4 linked regions of the Homo sapiens genome follow. The protein of the gene in region 1 purifies or fractionates together with the protein of each later gene. This does not show direct contact. Each region holds a gene or a part of one and is shown in the gene's direction. Other genes may lie near its edges.

Region 1 (7,042 bases):
GGCCAAGAAACTGCCAGGCCACATAGTGAATAAATGGTAGAGCTGCGATTTGAATGCAGGCAGTATGGTTTCATAGTCTTTCTTCTTTACTATTCACCAGTCCCCAGAACAGTTTTTCAACTGTATCTCAAGAACTATGGTGCTTTGTGAACCTTGAAACTTCTGCAGCCTGTGCACCTGTTTGTAGGTGAGCTGGCTTTGAAGTTGGTGGGTCAGCATCCCTCTTACTCAAAACTAACTGCTACTATATTTTTAGCAAATAGCACTAACTTGCTTAGCTTTAAAGCAAACTACTTCTATTGATCACCAAACATAAACTATTGACCTGGGTCATTACTTTTATATTTTCTACTTTTTTTTAAAGTTCCTTTTGAGTGTAAGAAATTTGGAAGAAGGTAAGCTTTGAATGAAAGAGCAGATCATCTCGTAGGCAGCATATTTTCATAAAGAAATAGTAAACGTTAGTAAAATCCAAATGTGACTTGATATAGAAAGAAGGGGTTGAAGAAGTAAAGGTGCCTTGTCAGAAGATGGTTGAAGTAGAATTGGAAGTGTTGCTCAATTGAGCATTTTTAATAGATATTCAGCAGGCATTAACTGATTAATGGGCTTATTCTGCTGGGCACTCTGCAGGGCCCCATATCTTCCCTGTTTTCAGAAACATTTCTAAATTGAGGAGGTTTGCCCAGGATACGGAAATAAGTGAAAAACAAGTCGTGATAATCTGGTGGTGTAGCGAAGAGGGGCCTTTCAGTGATCCCCCAACCCTCTGCAATTAGGCTTTGACCAGTATTTAATCATGTGGGGTTTTTTTATTGTGTATGTGAGATATGTGTGTTAGGATATTTATGTTAACTTTCCTATGTCAATCTAATTCAGCTGCAGATGGGACCTGTCCTGGTACAGAGGGGGAACAAAACAACTTGTATTTGGAGCAGTGGAGAAAAATTCAGTTTTTAAAGACATAAGGAAAGCTTAGTGAGCAAAAAAATTTCCTTACAGACTGATTTTTTTTTTTTAATTTTTAGGTTTTGTGGGTACGTAGCAGGTATATATATTTATGGGGTACGTATTTTGTTATAAGCATATAGTGCATAATAACCACAGGGTAAATGGGGTATCCATCACTTCAAGCATTTAGGGACTGATAATTCTAATTTTTAAATTTTGATTGTGAGCTAGCTTTCCTTGTTGTCATATAATTACAAGTCAGTAACATGTCCAATATATTTTTCTCATCTTTCCACGTTTCAGGAGACCAGTTTTGATTTTAAATGTTCTCAATCCAGACTAAAGACAACCAAGTATTCTTCTCAGAAAGTGATAGGAACTCCTCATGCCAAAAGTTTTGTGCAAAGATTCCGAGAGGCTGAGTCCTTCACACAACTTTCTGAAGAAATCCAGATGGCAGTTGTATGGTGCAGGAGCAAAAAACTCAAGGCTCAGGCCATTTTTCTGGGTAACAAACTTCTTAAAAGCAACCGGCTTAAACATCTGGAAGCTCAAGGTACTAGGTAGGTATATTGCAAAAATTATGTTACTTTACTTTTTCTGTTGTTGTTATGAGTAAAAGTATTCAGGTCACTTTTCTTTAAAATGTGATGTCCAGCAGCCGCAGCGGGGCTAAATTGGGATGTACTCAAACTGCAATTGCATTTGCTGCTTTTATTGTAAGAGCAAAGCTGTATCATTGGAGGAAGAAGATAAACAAGTTAATTGGACTTCAGTCCCCGTTATGCTCTTCATCATTTCCATCAGCTCATTCAGGAACCATTAAGAGTGTCTAGTGTGCTGAGCCTGAGGATACAACTGCATAAAGACGTGACTTGGTCTTCAGGGAGCTCAGGGTCTTCTGGGAAAGGCAGCCCTTCTGCAGACAGCTTCAGTGCAGTGCAGTGGGATAAGGGCATGAGAGCAGAAGCAGAAGGTGCCTGCCTTCCATGAGGCCCACACAAGACTGCTGGGGTGTTGTACTGTTGCTACTTGCTACTGTTTGTAGCAGCTGGACTCTATCTATATTTCTTTTCTGTGATTTTTATATTCACAACTGTTTAAGGGTGCTTATCTTTGCTTGTGAACCAGTATTGCATGAAGTATTACATGAATTTAGACATTAGACACTTCAGGGCTTAACGGTAATGATTTCAGACACAAATATGTATTAAGAGCCTATTCCACCTTCACAGAGGCAATTATTCTGACCTGTTTTTTATTGTATTCTTTAACAAATATCCTGTGCATGCCCCATAATTTCTTATCCATAGTTTAGAGCTATTCAGGGATTTAAAGTTCATTCCTGGGGATGAACCACGTATTGAAAATTTGTTAAATTTTCTTTTAAAATTTGCATAAAATATATTCCTGTTTTAGAAAAAAAAAAGTATACAGTGAGGGTTTTGTAACACATTTTGATTAAAAGCTATGGGGAAAGTGGTTGAATATTCCTGAGGGATAAAGTGCTTGAGGGGTTTTTACATTGAGATGGCTCCTCTAAAGGTCTGTAATAATCTAAAAGTGATGTATCCTATGGCTGGAGACGCAGCCTGAGATGGAGAGAAGCATTCTGTTTAAAATTGGGTTTAAAATCAAGGGTAGATGAGGCAGAGGTAACAACTAAAAGTTAATGAGAAGGGTAGCAAACTGGTGTTTATTGGTTAAACCATTACTCAGTACTCCCCCAGATATAGTGCTCCTTCATAGATTGCCCTGTTTTGCTGTTTCATTAATATATTTGTAGTAAACTTTATAATTTATTTAATGTCCATAATAACATTGTGAGGTAGACAGTATTATTCCCATTTCATAGATGGGTAAATGGAGGATTTTGCTCAAGGGGTTAGATGTGGAACTCAGTTCAGGCCCTCTGTTTTCCTTTCAACTCTGAAGTACACCCACCTTCTCCCCACTTAAAAGCCACTGCTTATAGTGAGATAAGAAAATGGTATGGAAGCAAAGATCATGATTTACTTTATTATAATGGGCTTCCTCAAAGTTTTATATCCATGCCCGTCTTTTAAAATCTATCACAAACAGTGAAACAATTCAGCAAGGCACTGATGAACCTTGTGGCAGTGTACCGTGTGTGGAAGCAAAACACCTAAAATGATCAGCTGTTTGATTTCTGAATTTCCAAACTTGAAGATGACATATGAATCATAATTAGGGTAGCTTAAGGCTGTCTGTGTATCTGGGCCAGAAGCCCTGTCTTCATATTGTTTTATAAACCCCTCTTAGCCTTTATTCCTTTTTCCTTGTTCATTTCCTGCCACAGCATGAAGCTGATTATCCAGATTCGGATTAATACGTACTGGCAGATTTTTTCATTTGTGATGTTTCCTCATGTCCACTCATTACATTATGAACAGATTAGCAGTTATGAGGGAAAAGCTCTGACACTAAAGTATAGGGTATCTCGCCATTCAGCTAATTGCTAGGCGGCTGTACTTTTGAGAGTTTGAAAGCAAAATGGGGACACATTCGTCTACACTTCAATCAGAGGGCATTTGTGCTCTCAAAAAACAGACTTGGGGTGAAATTTTTCGATGTGGTTCTGGGATTGTACACAGGCATAGGACTTGTAGATAAGTTGTGTATTTTTCTTTTCAGTTGGTAAATTAAAAGTGCTTGAGAATGTTTTTCTCATCTTAAGCCCAGATTTTTCCTCTCTCTGTCTTTTAAAGTTTGCCAAAGAAACTAGAGTGCATAAAAACGTCTATTTGCAACCACCTTCTTCGTGGCTCAGGTATCAAAACTTCAAAGCATCATCTGAGACAGAGAAGATCACAGAATAAATTTTTACGGAGACAAAGGAAACCACAGAGAAAGTTGCAGTCGACTCTTTTAAGGGAAATTCAGCAGTTCTCTCAAGGGACTCGGAAGAGTGCTACAGATACCAGTGCTAAGTGGAGACTCTCACACTGTACTGTGCATAGAACTGATCTCTACCCTAACAGTAAGCAGCTCTTGAATAGTGGAGTTTCAATGCCTGTCATACAAACTAAGGAGAAAATGATTCATGAAAATCTTAGAGGCATCCATGAAAATGAAACTGATTCGTGGACGGTGATGCAAATAAATAAAAACAGTACATCAGGAACCATTAAGGAGACAGATGACATTGATGATATTTTTGCTTTAATGGGAGTTTAGATGTTCGTTCATATGTGAGACTTTTAAGTGATTAACAAGGCTAGTTCAGTGTTCTAAGTAGAACTGCTAAGATCTGGAAGTACCACCTGGACTCACAGAGGAGCTGCTTTAGTGCAGCATTGCACAGGAGTTCATTTCAGTTCAGTCTACATTTAAAGTAGCATTGTGTCATTTCATCAACAAGTATTTCTTTTTTGGCTTCAACTACATGTCAGGTGTTAATATGAAAAATCTGCCACAGCCTACCCTTGAGAAGCAGATGTAATTCCTTGAGTGAGGCTAGTAAGTCTCTGAAAAACTGAATAATTTTATGACTTACTAGGCAATTTAATAATCGTTTGCAAAAACCATTGTGTCTTGAGGTAAATGAGGAGCGGGGGTGGGAGATAGCAAGGAAACACCTGAAAGGTCAATTTGGTCTTATTGGCTCCATTATACATAGGTCCGCCTCTGAATACTAAAGTTTGTAGCTCCTGACATTTATGTTTTCTTGTTTATATGTTGGAATTGATCAACAAGGTTTGCCACTGCTTGTATTACCAGGGACTGGTTACAACCATTATTTCTCTTCATTTGCTTGGCTTATCTCATATTAAAGTGAGTTTGGAGTTCTCCAAAACGTTTTAATTTTATTTATTTGGGTACCAGTGATTGATTCCAAATAAACCTTTTTACAAAAAGGCAATAAGGTGGTTTATGGTTACATATGAAATATAATAGGATAACAGGTAGATGAGAAAGTAAAATGAAAAAATGAGGTTAGGAGATACAAAGTAGACCCAGGAATGAGGCTAGAACATTTATAATTTGGTGTTGATGCTGTCATCTGATAGGGGATGTTGCTCGTACTGTTGCTCTGAGGGGAGTACATCTTGAGTATTTTCAAATAATGATGTGAAGTTTGAGGTAGGTATCTTTCCAATGTTCTAACTTTACTAGAATTAGGTTATTAAGCTTCTCTAGTGCCCTTAACTTTTGTTACATAGAGATTTAAAGAAAAAGAAAGTAGTACCTTAGTATGTACCGCATCCTTCTTTTCCTCAGCCACCCTATCATAACAGAAGTTATTTCCCTTCCATTCTTTATTTGGCTTTGTTCTTTCCCTGTCTGCCTTCTCCATTTTCTCAGTTATCTCTACCAGTGGTTCTCAAACTTTAGACTTTTTGAGAATCACCTGGTGGGTTGCTAAAAGATGCAGATTAGCCCTTTCCCAGAGACTGATAAACAGGGGCCAGAAACCTGCATTTTTAACATGGAGCCCAAGTGATTTTGATCCAGGTGGCCCCCAAATCCAGTTATATAAACACTACTTTAGCTTCTCTCCTGAAGCCTTAAGTAAACTGGTTTAATTCTTAATCTGTAGTCAGTTTTCATATTCCTTTTGGCTTTCTACCAAGTGGTAGTATCCATTTAGTGCCTTAAAATACAGACAATACCAAGGAGATTTCATTCTAGACAAGTCTAGAAATGGCCATTAACTTCTAAGTGTCCTTGTGTTCAATGAATATCCTTTACCTATTGGGAAATAGAAGGTAAATTAGTAAGAGAACTGGTGTATAGCTTTGTGGACCATAGGGCTTATTTGCTGAGAGTTGTCTATATTCATGCACCCAGTCCCCTAAGTAGCCTCTTTTAATACTTCATTTAGCTGATTCAGAAAAAAACTCCCTGGGAATTAGGAGATTTAAGGTTCAGTCTTGCTTCTCCTACTTGTGGCTTCACTGAGCTAGTCAGTTTCCTCAGGCTTAGGTTTCTGGATTTGAAGTGGAATTTTTTCAAGAATGAAACTTTTATAGCTGAAATAAACTTTGGAGCTTATCTTTCATTGGAAAAACCAGGGTGGTTCAGTGAGTTAAGGACAATATAGCATGGACTGGGCTGCCAGTCTAGCATTTGTTTCCAAATTCATTCATGTTCTTTTGGAGTATCTTCATCTCCTCTCATTTTCCCATCTTCTGCCCTTTACTATTCTGGGAAAATGGCAAAAAAGCTTCACATGTGTCCACAAAATGACAATTTGTATGTTTATAAGGAATTCAGTATTCTGTATCAGTTACTTTTTCCAAATAAATCCAAATATTTAACATTTAAAAAAATGCAATCTAAAGTATACCAAACTGTAACTTACCTAGTAAATGAGATTAGAAACTATTGTCAGGGTCATCGTAGTGAATTATTATTATTATTATTTTTTGAGACAGAGTCTTGTGCTGTTGCCCAGGCTGGAGCACAGTGGTATGATCTCAGTTCACTGCACCCTCCACCTCCTGGGCTCAAGCTATTCTCCCACCTCAGCCGCCTGAGTAGCTGACACTATAGGCACCACCATGCCCTGGCTAATTTTTTAAAAACTTTGTGTAGAGATAGGGTTTCACCATGTTGCTTAGGCTGGTCTCAAACTCCTGGACTCAAGGGATCCACCCACTTTGGTCTCCCAAAGTGCTGGGATTACCCACATCCTAGTACCAACTTTATCACTTCTGATGGCATTAGGACACACAGGCCATTTATAAGAGCAGTGTTTGAGACCTCCTGTGTGTCACTTCCAATCCTCTTGGCCTTCATACTAAAGTCACTGCTGTGGCAACCAGTTTCAAGCAGGGCTGAACCTTGCCTCTTGCTCTGGGGATGTCTCACTTCCTGCCCCTGGGCTTCTCACCAGCTACAGGAACTGCCTAGCACTTGGGTATGTACAACCTGGAAGAGGTGTGGGGCCACCCCATCCCCTCCTCAAAGAAATTCACAGGCACAGTATGAGGCTAAAGTAACTTCCATCTTGGATGCTAATCTACCATGTTGACTTCTGATAACCAGTTCCTGGAATGCCCTCTAAGATTTCTACTTTTATCTATTAAAAGAACACACACACACACACACACTGTAAATCCTGGCC
Region 2 (4,445 bases), on another chromosome or scaffold:
ACTGCATTGCATCTGGATGAGCCACTTTTCTTCCTGATTTCCTGAGCTCTAGGGGAGCATAGAGATAATGGGGTCAGGGGACACAGTGTGGCCACCGTGAAGGAAGCAGCTTAGGCCCCAGAAGTCTCCAGGATTGCTGTACCGAGATGACCAGGGTGTGATCTCTCACCCTAAGGAGCTGAATTTGGCTTTTCTGTGGGAAAGTGTCTGGGAAGAATATCAGAGACCAATAGCGCTCAGGGGGCCCTTTCTCGGGGCTGTCCAGTGTGGAAACACCCTGTCCTACACCAGTGGTTCCTGATTCCGGCTCTGAATCAGATTCACGAGGGCAACTTTTTTTTTTTTTTTGATATGGAGTCTTGCTGTCGCCCAGGCTAGAATGCAGTGGCGCGATCTTGACTCACTACAACCTCCGTCTCCTGGATTCAAGAGATTCTCCTGCCTCAGCCTCCAAGTAGCTGGGATTACAGGCAGGCACCACCATGCCTGGCTAATTTTTTTGTATTTTTTAGTAGAGACGGGATTTCGCCATATTGGCCAGGCTGGTCTCGAACTCCTGACCTTATGATCCGCCCGCCTTGGGCTCCCAATGTGCTTTGGTTACTGGCGTGAGCCACTGCACCCGGCCTGGGGCAGCTTTTTATAAGCACAGATGCCCAGGCCTTATTATTGAAGATTCCAATTCAGTAGATCTGGGTTGAGGACCAAGCATCTGCATGTTTTAAGAAGCCACAGGTTATTTTTGAGGTGTAGCAAGGATTGAAAGAACAGAAAACTTGGATTTGGAAAACTAGTTGTGACTTTAGGCAGTGAGTCAGTTTCCTAATGCACACATTGGGGGATTCTATAGGAATGCTGTAAGAAGCAAATAATACATGGAGAGAGTGCTTTATACAGCGATACACTGCACAGACACACTTGCCTTCAACATCAGCTGCCAGCCTAGTAAGTGGTAGTATAAATGCAAAGGATATAACTTCCTTTAGTTTTGCCAGGTGGGTCCCTGTGATTCTAGCTGAGCCCCAGGAAGGAAGGGAAGAAAACTGAGGGAAGAGAAGGGAGTGTGTAGTTGCCTCTGGGAAGGATAAAAGGATATGCCCTCTGGACCAATAGTTTATAACATTTTCCCCATTAAGCATCCTTCTACTCATTTTTCCTCAATGGATTAGTATCTTTAAATTTCATTACATTTCCCTAGTCTTCATGGAATTGCCAGCCAGAGAAGTCAGCTCGGGGTCCCCCTAAAAAGGAGGACTGGCCGGGAGTGGTGGCTCGTTCCTGTAATCCCAGCACTCTGGGAAGCTGAGGTGGGTGAATCACCTGAGGTCAGGAGTTCGAGACCCGCCTGGCCAACATGGTGAACCCCATCTCTACTAAAAATACAAAAATTAGCCAGGCGTGGTGTTGGGCACCTATAATCCCAGCTACTCCGGAGGCTGTGGCAGGAGAATCGCTTGAATCTGGGAGGCAGAGGTTGCAATAAGCTGAGATCATGCCATTGCACTCCAGCCTAGGCAACAAGAGCAAAACTCCGTCTCAAAAAACAAAAAAAAGGGAGTGTATGCCTGCATATGTATCAAATGCTGTAGGAAGGATATTCAAGAAATTTAGGGCCCTGGGAGGTGGGGAGACTTACAAAAGTGGACGTGACAGTGTTATTTGAAGTTTTAATCATGAGATGACTGTTCAGTTCTTTAAAATATCACACCTGATTGGTTGTGAATGGCAGAGGCCACCAGAGTATTTGCAGATTGGGAGCTCTACGTGGGTGGACATCGGGTCTTGCTTACTGTGAGCCCCAGGACCTAGAACACCACTTGCATACTGGAGGTGCTCAGATCATTTTTTTTTTTTTTTTTTTGCAGACAGGGTCAGATGTGTTACTGGGCTGGAGTGTGGTGGCACAATCACGCTCACTGCATCCTTGACCTCCTGGGCTCAAGTGATCTTCCCACCTCAGCCTCCCAAGTAGCTGGGACTACAGGTACGCCTCACACTTAGCTAATTTATGTATTTTTTGTAGAGGGTTTCTCCATTTGCTCAGAGTGGTCTCGAACTCATGGGCTGAAGTGATCTGTCCACCACAGCCTCCCGAAATTCTGAGACTGAAGGCATGAGCCAGTGTGCCAGGCCTAGAATATTTGTTGAGTGAATGCATGGAAGCCCAACTAGATAGCATTTTGGAAAACAGTAACAAGTTAGAAGATTAATACCATACAGTCACTAGAAGGTTAATTATGAACAAGTAGAAACAGAATATTTTTAATAAATGAAATAGACAAATGGAATTGTACTATGATTGCAATAATTAAAACTTTCACATATTGCTTGTATAGGAATAAAGACAAAGTCATATAAAAAAATGGGGAAAATTAAACACTACTCACCCATAGTCCTGAGTATTTTAAAGAGCCTTCGTAGAGCATTCAAAATCGGGTAAGAAAAATGGGGAAAAATAAAATTACTTAATCTTTAAAAGGAAGACAAGCGTATGCTCACCTAATTGGACTTATATAATCAGGCTTGCTCTAGCTTATCCAGAATCAGAGTACAGGCCGGGCGCAGTGGCTCATGCCTGTAATCCCAGCACTTTGGGAGGCCGAGGTGGGTGGATCACCTGAGGTCAGGAGTTTGAGACCAGCCTGGGCAACATGGTGAAACCCTGTCTCTACTAAAAAAAAATAGAAACATTAGCTGGGCTTGGTGGCGGGCGCCTGTAATCCCAGCTACTCGGGAGGCTGAGGCAGGAGAATCGCTTGAACCCAGGAGGTGGAGGTTGCAGTGAGCTGAGATTGTGCCACTGCACTCCAGCCTGGGCAACAAGAGTGAAATTCTGTCTCAAAAAATAAATACATAAATAAATAAGAATCAGAGAGTACAGTCAAGATATTCTTAAGTCATGCAGTTGTCGCTAACATGAATTTTTTCTGTTGTCATTTTGCTTCTTGGAAGGATTTTCAAAATGGCTGCAGCTCCTCAAGCACCGGGGCGGGGATCTCTCCGTAAGACGAGACCTCTGGTTGTGAAGACGTCGTTGAACAACCCATACATCATCCGCTGGAGCGCTCTGGAGAGCGAGGATATGCACTTCATCCTACAGACGCTTGAGGACAGGCTTAAAGCTATTGGACTTCAGAAGATTGAAGATAAGAAGAAAAAGAACAAAACACCTTTTCTGAAAAAAGAAAGCAGAGAGAAATGCAGCATTGCTGTTGATATTAGTGAGAATCTGAAGGAGAAGAAAACAGATGCTAAGCAGCAAGTGTCAGGGTGGACGCCTGCACACGTCAGGAAGCAGCTTGCCATTGGCGTTAACGAAGTTACCAGAGCCCTGGAAAGGAGGGAACTGCTGTTAGTTCTGGTGTGTAAATCAGTCAAGCCTGCCATGATCACCTCACACTTGATTCAGTTAAGCCTAAGCAGAAGTGTCCCTGCCTGTCAGGTCCCCCGGCTCAGTGAGAGAATCGCCCCCGTCATTGGCTTAAAATGTGTTCTAGCCTTGGCGTTCAAAAAGAACACCACTGACTTTGTGGACGAAGTAAGAGCCATCATCCCCAGAGTCCCCAGTTTAAGTGTACCATGGCTTCAAGACAGAATTGAAGATTCTGGGGAAAATTTAGAGACTGAACCTCTGGAAAGCCAAGACAGAGAGCTTTTGGACACTTCATTTGAAGATCTGTCAAAACCTAAGAGAAAGCTTGCTGACGGTCGGCAGGCTTCTGTAACATTACAACCCCTTAAAATAAAGAAACTGATTCCAAACCCTAATAAGATAAGGAAACCACCCAAAAGTAAAAAAGCTACTCCAAAGTAATCTTGCATAAACTTGTCATGTCATACAGTTTGTGAAAGGACACCTTGTAAAGAAGCCTTGAAACTAATAAAATGAGTTATACTTACATAGATTCATAGGGTCCTGTTTGGTAATATTCAAATGTGTAAGACTCTTTGTAACTATGGCACAGATATACTAAGTGCAGGAAATATTCAAAATTAGGAATAGCCAAACAGACATTTATTGAAACTAGTGTTCATGCGTGTGTAAATTGACTTTTTCTTTTTCTTTTTTTTTTTTTTGAGACAGTTTCACTCTTGTTGTCCAGGCTGGAGTGCAATGGTGCGGTCTCAGCTCACTGCAACCTCCTCCTCACGGGTTCAAGCAATTCTCCTGCCTCAGCTTCCCAAGTATCTGGGACTACAGGTGCGCACCACCATGCCTAGCTAAGTTTTGTATTTTTAGTAGACACGGGGTTTTACCATGTTGGCCAGGATGGTTTCCGTCTCTTGACCTCGTGATTTGCCCACGTCAGCCTCCCAAAGTGCTAGGATTACAGCTGCGAGCCACCGTGCCTGGCCTTTTTTTTTTTTTTTTTGAGACAGAGTTTCGTTCTGTCGCCAAGGCAGGAGTGCAGCGGCGCAATCTCGGCTCACTGCACCCTCCACCA
Region 3 (4,491 bases), about 55 Mb from region 1:
CCTGTACAAGAAAGAACATAGCAAGCTGACTTTGTCTCATCTTGAAGATCAGTCAAGGAACAATTTAAATGAAGGCTCAAAGGATGAGAGACATCAGCCATATGAAGAGGTGTAGGCAGAACATTCTAGGCAGGGGGAGCTGTAAGTAGGCAACTAAAGTGCCAGCACCATTAAATAAAATACTGCTTATGTGGAGGAGAAAAGCTCAAAACTCATTTGTTGTCAAAAGTTGACAAGCATTCAAGAATAATGGTGAGAATAGCCTGCTAATAGCATTATTCCATATGCAGGTTGATGCCGCCTTACCTTTGGACATCCTAACCTATGAAGAGAAGACCTTGTCAGCCATCTTGAGAATATGTAGCAGGTATGACAGAGAGTGGGAAATTTCTAGTATAACAGGGCAGAGAGACCGATGGAGCAAAAATGCTCTCTTCTGAGAATGAGAATAAATTTTTTGTTGTGAACTCTGAGCAGCTTTTGGGAATTTAAACTGGGATGAATATGAACATTCATCCACCAGAAACTTGTACTCTAGAGAGGGCAAAACTTACGATTTGGTTACAGCTGTAGTTTTCCCATTGATGGTTATAGTTGCAAAGTCAGAAGTGAATATTTTAGAAACCTTAGTTGAAGTTCATTTTGTTCTCTGTCTATGACACACTATGTATTTTCTTGATCTTTCTGCAGTGGTCTTGTCAAATTGTGGAGCTCTTTGACCCTGTTAGGATCCTATAAAGGCAAAAAATGTGCTTTCCGGGTGATTCAGGTAAAGACTATTCCCTCACATATTCCAAACAAGACTGAGTGATGGGTCAACTGCTTCTTAATATACACAACTCATTTTTGTGCTTGCATAAATGTAATATGGTTAAAATGATCTAAGTAGGGGAAAATAAAGGACTTGATTGTTTCCAAAAATGTGAGACAGAGCACTTAGATTTTAAAATCTATGGGAGATGTTTTGGGATAAAACTTGCAACCCTGTGGTTAAGGCTTACTTTTTTTATTTAACACTTAATGCCTTGTGTGTTATATATTGGTACGCTCTTTTTGAGATGTGACCACTTGTTATCGAAGGCTTCCTCTCAGGATGCTCTGTAAAATGCTCCTGCATCAGCTTTGTTTATCCTGTAAAACTGGGCATGTTTCCCCATTGCCCTGTGCTTCAGTGTGGTTTCTCCCAATGCCTTAACCTTTTTCTTTCTCTTCTAGGTTTCTCCATTTCTTCTTGCATTATCTGGTAATAGTAGGGAACTAGTATTGGATTGAATGAATAGTCTTCCATTTTGGAAACGTTCATCCACTCTCATATTTATTTTTTGGTGCCTGCATGTTTGAAGACTGAAGCAGGCTAAAAGCTCTTGATGAAATTTGAGGGTGCTGAAGATGTTCCCACTAATTTCCAGCCATCACCTTTGGTGGGGTGGGCTTCGGAGGACAGTCTGTCTGAACCTGCCAGTGCTGACCCTGCAGCACTTTCAGCATATGCACATCAAAGTTGGAGACCGCGCTGAACTTAGGAGGGCCTTCACACAGACTGATGTGGCTACCTTCTCAGAATTAACAGGGGATGTCAATCCTTTGCATTTGAATGAAGACTTTGCAAAACACACCAAGTTTGGAAATACAATTGTACATGGAGTTTTGATCAACGGACTTATCTCAGCTCTCCTAGGAACTAAAATGCCAGGGCCAGGCTGTGTATTTCTTTCCCAGGAAATTAGCTTTCCAGCCCCTTTATATATTGGAGAAGTTGTTTTAGCTTCTGCAGAAGTGAAAAAGCTGAAGCGGTTCATTGCTATTATTGCAGTGTCATGTTCTGTAATAGAAAGTAAAAAGACTGTTATGGAAGGCTGGGTTAAAGTTATGGTTCCAGAAGCTTCCAAATCCTGAAATAGATGTTTTAAAGATGCAACCTCAAACACCAATGCTGTTGTTAAAGAGCCTATGGGGAATTGCTGCTCTTTACCAAAGAATGGTTGATAGGCCCAGAAGCCCATCTTAGTTAGGGGAAGGGAGCAGGAAGAGGGTTGTTCAAATGCCCACTTTCCAGTTTGGCCTTATGCTTCATGCAGACTTGAGTGTATGCAGGATTTCATTATCTGCCTGGGTTTTTTGTTTGTTTTTTGTTTTTTAATTCAAGAAGTAGGCTGGGCCCGGTGGCTCATGCCTGTAATCCTGGCACTTTGGGAGGCTGCGGCAGGCGGATCACTTGAGGTCAGGAGTCCAAGACCAGCCTGGCCAACATGGTGAAACCCCATCTCTACCAAAAAAAAAAAAAAAAAAAAAGTGCAACTAGCTGTGCTTGGTGACTTGGCCCTGTAGTCCCAGTTGCTTGGGAGGCTGAGGTGGGAGAATTGCTTGGGCCTGAGAGCTGGAGGTTATGGTGAGAAACTGAGATTGCACCACTGCACTGTAGCCTGAGTGACAGAGCGAGACCCTGTCTCAAGAAAGAAGTATTGGGAAGGTTATTTAAAGACTCTACTTTTAAATCAGGCGTGGCAGCTCACGCCTGTAATCCCAGCATTTTGGGAGGCTGAGGCAGGCGAATCACTTGAGGTCAGGAGTTCAAGACCAGCCTGGCCAACATGTGAAACCCCATCTCTACTAAAAATACAAAAACTAACCGGGCATGGTGGCGGGCACCTGTAATCCCAGCTACTTGGGAGGCTGAGGCAGGAGAATCTCTTGAACCTGGGAGGTTGCAGTGAGCTGAAATCACACCACTGCACTTCAGCCTGGGTGACAGAGCAAAACTCCACCTCAAAAAAAAAAAAAAGATTCTACTTTTAGAAATTCAGACCTAGATAGATTTGCATTTGGATAACAAATCCCTACCTATAGCCATGTGGAAGCAGCTTGTCACTGTATTTTAACTGTGTAACAATTATTGAAGGCGAAAATAGAAGTTGGGTCATCTTTGAACACCTACCTTTTATCAATGAATATTTTTAGACTGTTCTTCAGTATCTGAGTCAGAGTTTATTGTAATTTGTTATTTACACCAAGGTGGCATCTTAGTCTACCTTCAGTGAGACTTGCGTTTCAGGGGAGGGGCGTATGTGCATCCTCGGTCTCAGTTATGTAAACGGTCTGATCTGTAAAATAGTGGTAGCACATGCCATGTGGGATAGTTGGTGGAGATGATAGATGGAGTTAAGCACAGGGCCCAGCCTGTCAGCAGTAGCTACTATTATTGTTGCCCATTTCCCCTGCAACTGAGGTGAGAGGTTTTCCTGAGTTTGAAGCTGACTGGCCCACAGTTAAACGTAACAGACCAGTTTTTCAGGGTGTCAGCCAACCTCTATTAGTGTTCTTAAGTACAGTTTCTGTTATAAAAGTTCAGATTATTCCTTGAAAATTTGGATCTACCTCCCATTATTATGAGTAATACATGCTTATAGTAAAAAAAAAAAAATTGTAAGAAATAAATATTAAGAAGATTATGGAGGCCAAATTCTTAAGACTTTGGGGGCTGGGGTCAGGGAGGTTATATTGAAGGGGAGATGTGCCTAACATGTTACTACTAAATGGCCATCCCAACACAGCCAACACTTTTGTTTCCCATTTTTTTTTGTTTCCCGTTTTTTAATAAAATTGAGATATAATTCACATACCATAAAATTCACCTTTTAAAAGTGTACAGTTTAGTGGTTTTCAGAATATCCACAAAGTTGTACAACCATCACCAAATCAATTTTTTATAGCATTTTTCATCACCCCCAAAAGAACCTCCCATTAGCAGTCAATCCATTTCTCTCCTCCAGTCTTTGGGAATCACCAGTCTACTTTCTGTCTCTATGGGTTTCCCTGTTCTGGACATTTCATAAAAGTTCATACAATGTATGATCCTTTGGAACTGGCTTCTTTGATATAGCATGTTTTCAGGGTTCATCCATGTTACAGCATGTATCAGTACATCATTTTATTTTATGGCTGAATAATATTCCATTGTATTTACCCATACATCAGTTGATATTTGGATTATTTTCGCTTTTGGGCTGTTAAAAATAATGTTATGAACATTATAGAAGAGGTTTTTATGTGCACAGGTTTTAAATATATATATATATATATATTTTCTTTTTTTCTTTTTTGAGATGGAGTCTTGCTCTGTCGCCCAGGCTGGAGTGCAGTGGTGCGATCCCAGCTCACTGCAAGCTCCTCCTCCTGGGTTCAGGCCATTCTCCTGCCTCAGCCTCCCAAGTAGCTGGGACTACAGGCGCCTGCAACCACGCCCGGCTAATTTTTTGTATTTTTAATAGAGACGGGGTTTCACCGTGTTAACCGGGATGGTCTCGATCTCCTGACCTCGTGATCTGCCTGCCTCGGCCTCCCAAAGTGCTGGGATTACAGGCGTTAGCCATTGCGCCTGGCCGACAGGTTTTAAATTCTAGGAGTGGAATTGCTGGATCATGTAACTTTAATATTATAAAGAATTGTCAAATTGTTGTTCAAATTACTATTGGGCATGAGGTGGTATCTCAT
Region 4 (7,042 bases), on another chromosome or scaffold:
AGCATTCAGACCATAGCAGGGAGCTTAGATTTGAAATTCATGTTGCACCGTTTATAGGAGAAAATTTCACCTGTATCTGTTATATCCAAGGTCCTTTATATGTCATCCTGACATGATTACCTTGTGTGCTACCTACTAGCTTTGTGACCTCGAGCAAGTTAATTCACCTTCCTACGTAAGATTCCTCTTTAAAAATAAGTAGTAATAGCCACCTTACAGGGTGACTATAGGATTAAAAACATGGTCAATGTTGCCACCCAACAAATATTAGTTCTCCACTATAATGTTTATCTCTGATAAAGGTGACATGTTTCTTTTTGAAAATATACTAGAGCCTCATCCTGGAACTTCACGACAGCGGCAAACCAGAGTCAACCCCCATTCTCTGCCTGACCCTGAAGTGAATGAGCAGTCTTCCTCCAAAGGGATGTTTAGAAAAAAGGGAGGATGGAAAGCAGGTCCCGAGGGCACGTCTCAGGAGATCCCCAAGTATATAACTGGTGGGTACTCATAAAGAGGTGCAGTTTGCTTGTATTTTGAACTCTCGTGTCTAGTGCAGCAACAAACTGCCCTCCTTGTGGTCCTGGCTCTGCCTCCCCTACCTCTCCTCTCCTCCTCCTACTTTAGACCCTTCTCGCCTCTAGCCTGGACTTTGGCCAGAGCTTCCTTGGGCTTGATGGCTCTCCCTTCTTCAGTTTCTCTCCCTGTCTCTTACTCTTCTTCTTACAAGTCTTTGTGAACTGTTCCTCTTTGTCTTAGCCCCCGTGCCCCTCTTGTTTTAAATATGCCATCCACACTCAGCACAGCATTCTCCAAGGATGGAAAATTGAGTACACACAAATGGCAACCAAACCTTTATTTAAAGGGCCTGTCTCCAGGCCCTTTCCATCCTCTTCTGTTCTTCACCCTATGATCCCCATCCACACTACCACAATTAAACCCTATATTCCTTGTACCTTGTACCTATACCTTAGATATGCTTTCTGGTCTCTCTTTACGCCTTCTTGGTGGAGGAATTCAGTTAAGTTTCCCCAGCAGCCTGTTTATTCTCCAATGTTAATTCAAGATTGGTGTTTAATGACTTTGTCATCTCCTTCAACAGCTTCTACTTTTGCTCAAGCACGAGCTGCTGAAATCAGTGCTATGTTAAAAGCTGTGACCCAGAAGTCTTCGAATTCACTGGTTTTTCAGACTCTGCCACGGCACATGCGACGAAGAGCCATGAGCCACAACGTCAAACGCCTTCCCAGACGGTTACAGGAGATTGCCCAGAAAGAGGTAGGAGTTCCACTTAGTGTAAATGTTTAGATTAGTAGCTCCTAGAAGAAATTGAGAAGTATTGACCTAATAGAATTTATTAAAAATGAAAACCAAGGCTGGGCATGGTGGCTCACGCCTGTAATCTCAGCACTTTGAGAGGCTGAGGTGGTCAGATTGCTTGAGCCCAGGAGTTCAAGACCAGCCTGGGCAATATGGCCTAACCTTGTCTCTACAAAAAAATCCGCAAATTAGCTGGGCGTGATGGTACATGTGTGCCTGTAGTCCCAGCTACTTGGAAACTGAGATGGGAGGGTACCCTGAGCCAGGGGAGGTTGAGGCTGCAATGAGCTGTGATCATGCTACTGTACTCCAGCCTGGGTGACAGTGAGACCTTGTCTAAAAAGAAAAAAAAAACTCAGAAAACATCACCCTTATGGTTTTTGTTTTTGTTTTGCATATATTTGATTTAATCATTATCCAAACTTCTTCCCTTCAAACGAAATTCACAGGCAATTGGCTATTATGGGTGCTTTGAAATATAGGATTTGATACTCCTCTCTTGTAAGGGTGTTGAATAGTTGATGTTCCCTTCCCAGATGTTAAAAAAAAACTCTGACCCTCTTACCGAGTGGTTTTGGATCTGTGTTTCTAGGGTGTGCCCAGCTTGGGGTAGGAAGGTTAAAAAAAAGCAATGTCAATGCTTAGCATTTGCTTTCTGACTTTTTCGAAGTTGAAAACTTGAACTGGGTTTTAATTTTTGTACAAGTCTAATTGTGTTTTGGCTTCACCAGAATTCTAGACTTGAACATTCTAAGATTAAGCCCATGTCTTTACTAATTGGTTTAAAACCTATTTATTGAGCAGCCTTCTATGTACCATTGCTATGCTGGTGGTGGGGTTTGAGTTCAAGAGGGAAAACTAACAAGGAATTTTATACTTTCTAGATTTAATATAAAATCTGTTTCCCAGTGATAGCATTCAGCATGTGTATGTCTGTAGCTTAACTGAGATGAAATGTATGGGTTTTCCTCACTTGTATTATTTTTGGTCTTAAGTTTTTGGTTTTAGTTACAATTCTACAGGTTAAAATGACAACAAGAAGCTAGCATTTGATTTCTTCTTTCTTGCCCTCTAATACTAATAGCCATATTAAGCTTGTGTTACTGTGTTGAACATTTTATAAGTATTCTGATCTTCATATTCCATGAAACTTGCCTAGTTAGTGAGTGATGGAACTGTGCCTCCTTCCTAGGTCTCCTAGCTCTAAAACATTCACTCTTTCCATTGTCTTCCTTCTCTACTTACATTGAAGAAACTAAGTTAACAATTTAAGCAAACTAATGGGATCTATAAAATATTCCACTTAATCTAAAGTTATTTGTTTGCATTCCTGACCGTTAACTCTGTTTTGAGATTCTTACAAACTGGGATATGTCCCTCTACTTGAAACTATAGGCGGAGAAAGCCGTACATCAGAAAAAAGAACATTCAAAAAATAAATGCCATAAAGCTCGAAGATGTCACATGAACCGGACGCTAGAATTTAACCGTAGACAAAAGAAGAACATTTGGTTAGAAACTCACATCTGGCACGCCAAGCGGTTTCATATGGTCAAGAAGTGGGGCTACTGCCTTGGGGAGAGGCCAACAGTCAAGAGCCACAGAGCCTGCTATCGAGCCATGACGAACCGGTGCCTCCTGCAGGTGAGCTTTTCCAGTGGGCTTTTTTTGTTATTTTTGTTTGATCCTTTTCCATAGAGGCCTTTAGAATAGTTTATGATGTGCCAAGCCCCGTTTATGTGATTATTCATTTTAAAAATAATTCCTGAGCATGAAGCCCGGGTCCTTTGCCAGATGCTGGAGATCAGGCAGCCTAAAGTTAGGGGGGTGACTGACATTAATCAAACGATTTACCAGATATGTGGTTGTAAGGGAAAAGCATACAGTATGATGAGCATTTCTAACCTAACTGGAAGGCGTCCCCCAGAAGTGCTGTTTGAGCTGAGCTCTAAGGGATAAGATGGGAGGAGAGGGGGAAGGCAGAAGGAAGCCAGGTGAGAGTGAAGAACTGGAATCAATTCTGTGTGACAGAGAAGAAGAGAAGGAGAACAAGGCAACATCAGGGCAAGGTTAGCCTAGAGAAAAGAGTAGGAACCAGGTCGTGCAGGTCTTGTTGATCATGTCAAGTTTTATTCACTATAGATTAATCTAACAGTCGTTCATCAATAACAGATATTTGAGAATCAACTGTGTACCCTGAACAGGGTTCAGAATGCTGGTCTAGGTGTTTATGGGTCAGTGGGATGCTGGGAAGGATGTTTTAAATTTTAAACGCTTTGAGAGGACAGATTATGTTAGAGCCTCTTAATAGTATTTATCTGATTGCTCCCTCCTCTCAGAAGCTAATTCAGTTGCTTTCTATTTCTTCCAATACATACTTAGACATTTGTTCTTTGCAGAAGGGCCTATCTTTCAGTGGCAGAATGGCCTTGGCCAAATTTTGAAAGCCATTACTATTGGTGTCCTTTGATACCCCTTGAGAGTAATGTGGTAGAATAAGCAATACAAGAATCTTTTTAAAAAATTGTGGTCAAATATACATAACAAAACCATTTGACCATTTTAAGTGTATAGTTCTGTGGCATTAAGTACGTTTACGTTGTGTAATCAGTACCACCATCCATCTCCAGAACTTTTTTATCCTTCCAAACTGAAACTCTCGACTCATTAAACACTAACTCCCATTCCTTCAGCCCCTGGCAGCCACCATTCTATTGTCTATCCAATAATTTGATCCTATAGGTGCTTCATAGGGGTGAAATCATACAATATTTGTCTTTTTGTGACTGGCTTATTTCATTTAGCATAATGTCTTAAAATTCATCCGTGTTGTAGCATGTGTCAGAATTCCCTTCCCTTTTAAGGCTGAAGATGTATTCCATTGTAGGTATATACCGTATCTTGATTATTCATTTATCTGTCAGTGGACATTTGGCTTACTTCCACCTTTTGGCTATTGTAAATAATGCTGCTGTGAACATGGATATGCAAATATCGTTACAGTCCCTGCTTTCAGTCCTCTTGAATATATCCCCAGAAGTGTAATTGCTGGATCATATGATAATTCTATGTTAATTTTATGTTTAATTTTTTGAGGTACTGCCTTACCATTTTCCATAGCAACTGTATCATTTTACATTCCCACCAGCAATACACAAGGGTTCCAATTTCTCCTCATCCTTTTCAGTACTTGTTACTTTATTTATTTATTTGATCACAGTCATTCTAATGAGTGTGAAGTGAATAAGAGGACCTTTTAGGAGTCTTTGATTTGAGAACTCAGCAGCAGAAATCATAGATAATAGTCAAGTTCCTCATTCACATTGAGGAAGCTGGGTTCTGGAGAGATGAAGTGACTTGCCTGGGCTCACACAGCTTGTTGGTGGCCTACATAGCACTTGGGTGGCTGATTCCCCTGGCTTGTGCTTTTTCCACTGTCCTCTGCCAATGAGTTACTTTTCATTTTGGGCATAATTTTTGCTGAAGTTATCAGATATTTTCTCTAAAATTTGATCAGCCCTAAGTAATAAAACTAATAGCTAATAATAACAAATATTAGTGAGTGCTTAATATATGCCCTACCCTGTTTTAAATGGTTTGCATGTGTTTACTCATTTAATCCTCAGAATAGTACGAAGTAAGGAGTTACCATTATTTCCATTTTACAGATGGGGAAACTGAGGTACAGAGAGGTTAGGTAGTTTACCCATGATTGTATGGCCAATGAGTGTTGAGGTTCAGATTTGAGCCCAGTTGCCTGACTCCAGGGTTCCACACTCTGAACCATTATTCTCTGCTGTCACTTGTTTGGGTGAGGTTCCTCTGGCCACTGACAGCTGAGAGCTGGTCACTGGATGGGAAGATTTCTTTGTGTGAGTGATCATATTGATTGACATGCGTTGTCAGAATCATAGCTATAATTTCCCTTTTAGTTCTAGTTACTGAGTGCACTGAAATTGCTTAAAGATGCTATAGCAGAAGGGTTGGTTTGGCAGATCACTGAGCCTGATTAGAATGCTGGCTTCTCCACTTAATGACTGTGTCTTTGTTCAAGTAACAATCTCTGTGTCACAGTGTCCTTGTCTGTCAGATAAGATAACCATACTAGGTACATCTGGTTGTCAGGAAGACTAAATGACTGTTCATGTAAGGAGTTAACTCATTGCTGGCACTCAGTAACCCTTCAATGACTATTAACTATTATAGGCCAGGCATGGCAGCTCATGCTTAGAATCACAGCATTTTGGGAGGCTGAGGCAGGAGGATTGCTTGAGCCCTGGGGTTCAAGACCAGTCTGGGCAACATAGTGAGACTCTGTCTCTGCAAAAAAAAAAAAAAAAAAAAAAAAATCTGGGTGTGGTGGCTCGTGCCTGTAGTCCCAGCTACCTGGGAGGCTGAGGCAGGAGGATTGCTTGAGCTCTGGGGTTCAAGACCAGTCTGGGCAACATAGTGAGACTCTGTCTCTGCAAAAAAAAAAAAAAAAAAAAAGCTGGGTGTGGTGGCTCGTGCCTGTAGTCCCAGCTACCTGGGAGGCTGAGGCAGGAGGATTGCTTGAGCCCAGGAAGTTGAGACTTCTGTGAGCTGTGATTGCGCCTCTGTACTCTAGCACTGGCAACAGAGTGAGACCCTGTCTCAAAAACAAAACAAACTGTTAGAATTATTATTATAATTATTATTATGGATACTATAACTATTGAAACTTTTAACATTGATTTCATTAGCTTAGTCTGATCTCTCTTCATCTTACTTGAAATTGTATGTTATTACTTTTACTTTCTTTGTACTGTGCTTAAAGTTGCATATCATGGTCAAGACTGAGTATGGGAGAAATATGGGATGGATTAATTGCAATATTGTATCTCTAGGCTTAGTGTTAAGTAATCTTGAGGTCCTGAATTAGCTAACCAAATTGAGCAACCTGAGCATAATTTTGCAGAATTCATTACTGTTTTGCTTATTTTACTCTGGTTTCTTACCTTAGGTAGACTTTGGGGGTGAATGGTTCTCTACTTAGAGGCAACAGTTATGTACCCTCCGTAGAACCTGTCTATGAATATGGGATAAAACATAGATTACCTAAAAAGTAGGATACCGTAACTTACATTTTAAATGGAGATTCATTTTTATTTTGGTTCGGGTTGGTTTAAAAATATTTGTTAAGGTGACAGGAATGGACAGGTTTAGATATTTTTTCCACTAAACCATCGGGCAGGAGAAGGTTTAGATTTTGACTTATGAGAACATAGCTTTAGCAATTTGTTTTGTGTCTTAGGCCTCTAAAGGTTTTGTGATACGGCTTTTGGCTTCTTAGCAGTTTTGCCTGTGTAAATTCCTAAGTACTTAATTGTGTCTCCCGCTTTGTGCAGGATTTATCCTATTACTGTTGTTTGGAGTTGAAAGGCAAAGAGGAAGAAATACTAAAGGCGCTTTCTGGAATGTGTAACATAGACACAGGTAAACTTGTTTTAAAGCTGAGTTCTATTTTAGTCTATGTATATTTATTCATTTCATAAAGAAGTGTCTACTGTAAGCATTTTGGAATTCAAACATATAGAAAAGTGTGTGAGACACTAATCATTCCCAATGAAAATGTTAACTTAAAAACAGTTGGGTTGGCTTTTAAATAATTTCTAACATTGTCAAGTGTAAAGTGATAGAGTCATTTTTCTGGTGGAGTGAACTTGACAGAAAGAAACTTGAAGCTCTCATTACTCATTTAACA

What was found.
Region 2: the proteins of RMP64 (region 1) and RPP38 purify together in Homo sapiens (affinity purification with mass spectrometry; 2 studies listed by BioGRID and IntAct, with this or other methods). This does not show direct contact.
Region 3: the proteins of RMP64 (region 1) and RPP14 purify together in Homo sapiens (affinity purification with mass spectrometry; 2 studies listed by BioGRID and IntAct, with this or other methods). This does not show direct contact.
Region 4: the proteins of RMP64 (region 1) and POP1 purify together in Homo sapiens (affinity purification with mass spectrometry; 2 studies listed by BioGRID and IntAct, with this or other methods). This does not show direct contact.

What each region holds. Positions count from the first base shown.
Region 1 is NC_000003.12:113,002,643-113,009,684, reverse strand, and holds part of RMP64 (nucleolus and neural progenitor protein), read left to right. Parts: intron 1-1,254; coding exon 1,255-1,514; intron 1,515-3,654; coding exon of another isoform or gene 3,655-3,680; coding exon 3,681-4,149; 3' UTR 4,150-7,042. UniProt on the Homo sapiens protein: May play a role in cortex development as part of the Notch signaling pathway. Downstream of Notch may repress the expression of proneural genes and inhibit neuronal differentiation thereby maintaining neural progenitors.
Region 2 is NC_000010.11:15,100,353-15,104,797, forward strand, and holds the end of RPP38 (ribonuclease P protein subunit p38), read left to right. Parts: intron 1-1,865; 5' UTR 1,866-1,984; intron 1,985-2,952; 5' UTR 2,953-2,962; coding exon 2,963-3,814; 3' UTR 3,815-3,905; downstream 3,906-4,445. UniProt on the Homo sapiens protein: Component of ribonuclease P, a ribonucleoprotein complex that generates mature tRNA molecules by cleaving their 5'-ends. Also a component of the MRP ribonuclease complex, which cleaves pre-rRNA sequences.
Region 3 is NC_000003.12:58,316,225-58,320,715, forward strand, and holds the end of RPP14 (ribonuclease P protein subunit p14), read left to right. Parts: intron 1-290; coding exon 291-367; intron 368-690; coding exon 691-769; intron 770-1,215; coding exon 1,216-1,272; 3' UTR 1,273-1,389; coding exon of another isoform or gene 1,390-1,896; 3' UTR 1,897-3,969; downstream 3,970-4,491. Other genes in the region: HTD2 (hydroxyacyl-thioester dehydratase type 2, mitochondrial), read left to right, coding at 1,390-1,896. UniProt on the Homo sapiens protein: Component of ribonuclease P, a ribonucleoprotein complex that generates mature tRNA molecules by cleaving their 5'-ends.
Region 4 is NC_000008.11:98,127,263-98,134,304, forward strand, and holds part of POP1 (ribonucleases P/MRP protein subunit POP1), read left to right. Parts: intron 1-332; coding exon 333-500; intron 501-1,102; coding exon 1,103-1,278; intron 1,279-2,715; coding exon 2,716-2,964; intron 2,965-6,686; coding exon 6,687-6,774; intron 6,775-7,042. UniProt on the Homo sapiens protein: Component of ribonuclease P, a ribonucleoprotein complex that generates mature tRNA molecules by cleaving their 5'-ends. Also a component of the MRP ribonuclease complex, which cleaves pre-rRNA sequences.